Linked DNA regions of Homo sapiens. The protein of the gene in region 2 interacts with the protein of the main gene of each other region in a pairwise test. Each region holds a gene or a part of one and is shown on either strand. Other genes may lie near its edges.

Region 1 (3,500 bases), on a different chromosome or scaffold from region 2:
CAGGCAGATCACCTGAGGTCGGGAGTTTGAGACCAGCCTGGCCAACATGGAGAAACCACATCTCTACTAAAAATACAAAATTAGCCAGGCGTGGTGGTGCATGTCTATAATCCCATCTACTCGGGAGGCTGAGGCAGGAGAATAACTTGAATCCAGGAGGCGGAGGTTGCAGTGAGCTGAGATGGTACCATTACACTCCAGTATGGGCAACAAGAGTGAAACTCCATCCAAAAAATAAATAAATAAATACGTGATAAAAATAGTTTGCTCTGAGTTTTTGCCTTTCTGGAATTTAATAGCAAGAAAAATATGTTCCCTACCCTCTCAGCCCCCACTCTACCTCCCTGTGGCTTGTTAAGCCTTCCTTCTGCCTCCTGCATCAACTTCCTGATGGAGAGTGTATGAATGCAAAAGCTCCTCCCTTAGCACTTACCTAGTGCTTCACTCTCTGGGCTCCTGCCACTGGGTCCCAGCTAAGAGAGTTTGATTTTAAAATCCAGAGTTTATGGCTTTTTAAAAATAACCTCTCACCTATTTATCAAAAGCTCCTTCTAAATAATATTTACAACAACAACAATGATAATGGCTACTATCTAGTATTTCCCATTTTCCAGACACTGTGCTGGGCTCTTTCCAAACACTGTTTTAATCTTTACAACAACCCTACAGGATAGATATTATCTATACCCATTCTCAGCTGCAGCTGAGTTTCAGGGAGGTTGAAGTGACTTGCTCAAGGTCATAAAGCTTATTAATTGGTGGAGAAATAGTTCAAACCCAACCCTATTTGAGTCCTAAGCCATGTAGCCCTCTCCCACCCTTTCTCCCAACTATATCAAATTGCTTTGCTTTTAAAAGGTGACAGTAATTTGTTTTTTCTCTTTTTCATAGTGTAATTCTGTCCCTAGAGGTCAAATTGCATCTGCTGCATAGCTACATGAATGTGAAGTGGATCCCACTGTCCTCTGATGCACAGGTGAAGACTTCTCCCACATCTACCCTGGTGTGTCTTCATTTCATTTTCAGTGACAGAACAAGGAGATCTGGGATGGTTTCCTTCTGAATCTATTCTGAGTGGTGGCTTACAATTCAAGGTTAGAAGTAACTAGAAGATGTCAGATAAGTTCCAAAGACAATTTTTCCTGTTTTTATTGTATTTTTTATTTTTATTTTTGAGATGGAGTCTTGTTCTGTCACCCAGGCTGGAGTGCAATGGCACAATCTTGGCTCATTGCAACCTCCGCCTCCTGGGTTCAAGCGATTCTCCTGCCTCAGCCTCCTGAGTAGCTGGTATTACAGGCATGCGCCACCACGCCCAGCTAATTTTTGTATTTTTAGTAGAGGACAGGTTTCACCATGTTGGCCAGGCTGGTCTCGAATGCCTGACCTCAGATGATCTGCCCGCCTCAGCCTCCCACAGTGCTGGGATTACAAGTGTGAGCCACCGCGCCTGGCCTTTCCTGTCCTTTTTTTTTTTTTTTTTTTCAGAGGAAGTCTTGCTCTGTCAGCCAGGCTGAAATGCAGTGGCACAATCTTGGCTCACAGCAACCTCCACTTCCCAGGTTCAAGTGATTCTCCTGCATCAGCCTCACGAGTAGCTGGGATTACAGACGTGCGCCACCACACCCGGCTGATTTTTGTATTTTTAGTAGAGACGGAGTTTCACCACGTTGGCCAGGCTAGTCTCGAACTCCTGACCTCAGGTGATCCACCCACCTTGGCCTCCCAAAGTTCTGGGATTACAGGCATGAGCCACCACACCCAGCCCTTTCCTGCTTTTTAAAAACCGTTAGTCTCCTGTTTTCCACATCTCCTCTCCAGCCAGTCTCTGTTATCTGATACTAAAACATATATATATTTTTTGAGACGGAATCTTGCTCTTGATGCCCAGGCTGGAGTGCAATGACACGATCTCAGCTCACTGCAACCTCCACCTCTTGGGTTCAAGCGATTCTCCTGCCTCAGCCTCCCGAGTAGCTGAGATTGCAGGTGCCCGCCACCATGTCCAGCTAATTTTTCTATTTTTAGTAGAGATGGGGTTTCGCCATGTTGGCCAGGCTGGTCTTGTGATCCGCCTGCCTTGGCCCCCGAAAGTGCTGGGATTACAGGCGTGAGCCACCGCGCCTGACCTAAAACATATTATTATTATTATTATTATTTTTCTTTGAGATGGAGTTTCACTCTTTTTGCCCAGGCTGGAGTGCAATGGTGCGATCTCAGCTTATTGCAACCTCCGCCTCCTGGGTTCAAGCGATTCTCCTGCCTCAGCCTCCTGAGTAGCTGGGATTACAGACATGCACCACCACGTCCGGCTAATTTTGTATTTTTAGTAGAGATGGGGTTTCTCCATGTTGGTCAGGCTGGTCTGGAACTCCCGACCTCAGGTGATCCACCCACCTCGGCCTCCCAAAGTGCTGGGATTACAGGCATGAGCCACCGTGCCTGGCTTAACATATTCTTTAAGAAAGGTTTTCTGGACTGTTTGTTGAACTTGAGATGATCATTATTTCGTCCAAAGTCTTCTGTAGATAGACCTCTGTTTTGGGCACTAGGAGACGGAGTAGCTTAAAGAGCTCCTAATTCAGTGGGCTCTGAGTTAGAACAGGAGCACAGGAGTAGGGTCAAATTGATAACTCCAATGCAGAATGTATAAAAGTTGAGGGGATGCAAAGTGGCTAGACTTGGTTAGTTTTGATTAGTCAAGACTTTCTTGAGATTAGTTTCGAGCAGAATTTGGCATAGAGAAATGTATAATAAAGAACATTCTAATGTCTGGGCCTCTCACCCGGAAGCCACGTATCATATGGTTGCTCATTGTTCTAAATGAACAGTAAGGCTTTATTCTACTATCTCCTTATTACAGAAGGGAGTCAGATTGCAGTGGGGGAGAAAGCTGACTGACTGGAACCCAGGAAGGACAGTGCCATCCTGGGTGACCCTTCCCTCATCATGACAGAAGCCCTTCTCTGGAGCAAGGCAGTCACTAGGCAATCACTCAGAGGACGGAGTTCATAGGTGTCCATCCTTTTCTACCTGGCTAATTTCTATAGCCATGGCTGCAGGGAGCTCCCTGAGCCAGATGGATGGGCTAGAGGTCCCTGGGGGATTCCCCCACCCCAGGCTGCTGGGATAACTGTCAACAGTGTTCTTGTCTCTTCCAGGCTCCTCTGGCCCAGCCTGAGTCCCCCACCGCCTCAGCTGGAGATGAGCCCCGGTCCACTCCTGAGTCTGGAGACTCAGACAAGGAGTCAGTTGGCAGCAGTTCCACCAGCAACGAGGGCGGCCGGCGGAAGGAGAAGTCAAAGCGAGATCGGGAGAAGGACAAGAAGAGAGCAGATTCTGTGGCTAACAAACTGGGCAGCTTTGGCAAAACCTTGGGCAGCAAGCTCAAGAAGAACATGGGGGGCCTGATGCACAGCAAGGGTTCAAAGCCTGGAGGGGTGGGGACAGGGTTGGGAGGAAGCAGCGGCACTGAGACACTGGAGAAGAAGAAGAAAAAC
Region 2 (3,500 bases):
AAAAATTTCATAAATTTGACTACATAAAATTCTACAGGGAAATTTAAGAATAGCTTTTTAAAACCCTAAGAAAATATATTAGTAGCATCTACCCCCAAAGTCTAATTTTAATTCTATAAAAATTCTTACAAATAAGGAAAGCAATAACATAAAGGAAAGATGGGTAACTTCTATGAACAGACAAGTCACAGAAAAAAGAGACATTAAGTCACCATAAACATAAGAGCCTCTATGTTACTCAGAAATCCAAATCTCAAAAAGAGACTATTTCAACCAATTATACTGGCTAAAAATGCCTAACTAACTAAATGCTGGTGAGGTTGTGGAAACAGTATAAACTGATTAACCTGTTAGATGGGCAATTTGGTGGTATTTATTAAAAATTTAAATACACACCACTCTCACCAATTCTATTGCTAGAAATCCATCTTGTTAATATACTTATCCAAGTATGCAAAGGGATGCTCTAGACTCACCAGTGAGTACTCATTTAAATAGCACCCCAAAACAAAACAAAACCTAAATGTCCATCTGTATGGAGAGGATTAAAATTTGGTATAGACATACAAATTCAACCGTGTATTTCAAAAATTAATTCCTAGATCTTGATATGAATCTATAAAGAAACCTAAACAATATTTTGCAGAGGCCACACAATTCCTCTTGGAAACTTACGAATGACTCGCACAAACCATACCTGTCCTACTAGGAGAGCAGCTGACACCTCTAGGGTCATCACTAACATCACCTGATCTATGCCTACCATCAACCTCACTGCACTAAGGTGAAGACGTCCAATCCCCTATAAGGCTTTACTGCCTTTACTGACAAGATTGGTTGACAATACCAACAGGGAAAGACAGAAATCTTAGAACTTCAAGATGCTTTTCCCAAATATCCAGGTGCATCAAAGGAATGGGAGTTTTCATGCAAAGAATACAGTCTGAAACAGGTTTGGAAGAGGCAAGCTTAGTTCTAGGTCAGACCCACAGGACGTGGGATGAGGGATATATACAGGCATTCGTTAATGCTGCATTGTTCTTATTCTCTATCTCTATATCTGACGTGTTTCACAAAAAAAAAAAAAAAAAGTGCTCACTTCACCAGCAAACGTAACTAAAGCAATATTTAAAAGATGAGTAAAAGCTAGTACAAGGATGGTATCCATAAAGTTGTTTTAAAATCTTATTTCTAATATTTACTACTTTCAAGTTGTACAAGTGTCGTCCTTGAGGAGAAAAAAAGGTAACACAAGAGCACCATAAACAGAAAGCAGAAAGGGGGTATCAAAAGATGCAAGTGGAGAGAAACAGAACTGGGAAGACGAAAACAAACTTCATTGCTTTTTAAGATGTGGGCCATCCCTAGGAGCAGGAAAGACAACGTATCTTTTCTTCTGTACCTACTTCCTACAATACAAGGAGGGTCCATCCAAAGGACCTAAACCTCGTAAGTCCCATTCCTATTACAATTCAAGTTTAATTAACCCAGGAATTCATGACCATTTATAAGCATTTCCAAAACTGGTAAATACAGACCACTGCCAATCTGCAGTATGTATTCAGTATTTATGCAGGCTTTTTGTTTTTTTAAGTTTTGGCTTTATTTTCATGTTTTAGGAAAAACATAGCTAGCCTATTAAAACTGAGCTGTGGACATAATTGCTTAGGATATTTCTAAAACGAATGTTTCAGGTAAAAAAAAAAAGTGTGGGGAGGCAGATTTAAAAAAAATATCATTTAATGGATTAATGGTGCTGTGGTTTGAATATTCCCTTCAAAACTCATGTTGAAATTTAATTGCCATTGTGATGGTACTGGGAGTTGGGACCAGGTGTTTAGGTCCTAGGGCTCAGCTTTCATGAATGGACATTATCACAGCAGTGGGTTCGCTTGCTCTTCTTTCTTTCTCTGGCCTTCCACCATGTTAAGACACAGCAGGAAATTTTTCATGGTAAAATGCTGGGGTGAACACATTTAGGTTACCGAAAGCACTTTTGGTACCCTGAATACAGCAAATATTATTAAGACTGCACATTAAATTATTAGGAAACATTAACTTAGAAAATGGTTTTCTAATAAAAATGCTCCCAACAGCAACTTAAAAACTCATGAAACAAATCATTTAGAAGTAGAAACTCTCACAACATCAAATCATTACAAAGGCATTGTGAAATGTCTTTAGAAATATTTACTTACAATTTGTAACATTTGGGGCTATCCCGCGTATGAATTGAAAACCCTTCACTCAATCGAGTATCAGAAGCAACAATTGCAAAATCTTCTCCAGCAATTGCCAGTATAGTACTGAGGAAAAAAGAAAAAAATTAATTCTCCAGGGTGGTAATCCTATCCCTACAAATAGAAGAATGCTCCATAGTACATAATGGGATAAAATACTCTAGATGTCAACAAAAACATGATTCAAATGGGAAGAGGAAAGATGAGCGGGAAGAGAATGAACGCCTGGCTACGAGTTGTCTGGGAAAAAAAAATTATTAATAAGCCTAAATCAGGGCAAAGTCTCCTTGGCAGGAGTTAACAGAAAAGCCAATGAATTATCATCACCAACACATTAAATACTTACTCGCGCAAGGTACTACTAATACAGAACAACTAAATACCACATCTGTGCCCTTGAGGATCAGGTATAGACAGTGGTACTACAACGCAAGCTCTATGAGTTTAGAGAAGATGAGATTTTTTTTTCTTGCTTCATTTCTTTATATCCAAGTCCTTATATAACGCCTATATAATGCTTATTTCTTTATACCCAATCCCTTATATAATGACAAATAGATGGACAAACAGTAAATTTTTCCCTCTGTGGCTGTACAATTTGACAGCTTATCAAAGAGACTTACAGTAGAATTCCAAAAGCAGACCGCCTGGGTTCTAATTCTGGCTTTCCCGTTTCGCAGATATGAGACTGTGGGTAAGTTACTTCTCAAAGCGTCAATTTCATCATATATACAACAGAGATCACTGCAGTTGCTACCTCATTAGGGTGTTCAAAGGATCAAATATGTAAGCCCTTATAGCAGTCCCTGACATGTAACTGGTCCTCTAGTAAGTGTTAGCTATAAGTGCTATGGCACTGGAGTATGACTAAGCACCTGGGCTCTGGAATTACATGAGACAGAGACCCACTCTTGCTACTTACTAGGTATGTGATCTTGGACAAATCCTCCAAATGCAAGTTGATGATAACAGTACCTGTGTCACAAGGTGTGTATATATATTTGGGTGTGTATATTTTAATGTACAAGGCTTGACTGATAACTATAACCACTGCTTCAATGCAATAGTGGAAATTAAAGGCATGGTGCCTCACAGACGTAAGCACTCAGGAAACTTAAGCCACTATTTTTACTGAGGAGGGATTTGTGCTAAAGCTCTCAAGAAGAAAAGGATGGCATTCCAGGTAATATAAACAGCAAGCAATGGCAAACAGGTAATTATTCAAATAGTACATACATTCAAGCAACTCATTCAGGCAGC

What was found. Proteins that work in one complex are often made in the same cells at the same time.
Region 1: the proteins of PSMB1 (region 2) and OTUD7B interact in binary tests that used the Homo sapiens proteins (3 or more experiments, as listed by UniProt).

What each region holds. Positions count from the first base shown.
Region 1 is NC_000001.11:149,944,727-149,948,226, reverse strand, and holds part of OTUD7B (OTU domain-containing protein 7B), read left to right. Parts: intron 1-891; coding exon 892-976; coding exon of another isoform or gene 977-1,003; intron 1,004-3,161; coding exon 3,162-3,500. UniProt on the Homo sapiens protein: Negative regulator of the non-canonical NF-kappa-B pathway that acts by mediating deubiquitination of TRAF3, an inhibitor of the NF-kappa-B pathway, thereby acting as a negative regulator of B-cell responses.
Region 2 is NC_000006.12:170,546,808-170,550,307, forward strand, and holds part of PSMB1 (proteasome subunit beta type-1), read right to left. Parts: intron 2,307-3,500; coding exon 2,199-2,306; intron 1-2,198. UniProt on the Homo sapiens protein: Non-catalytic component of the 20S core proteasome complex involved in the proteolytic degradation of most intracellular proteins. This complex plays numerous essential roles within the cell by associating with different regulatory particles.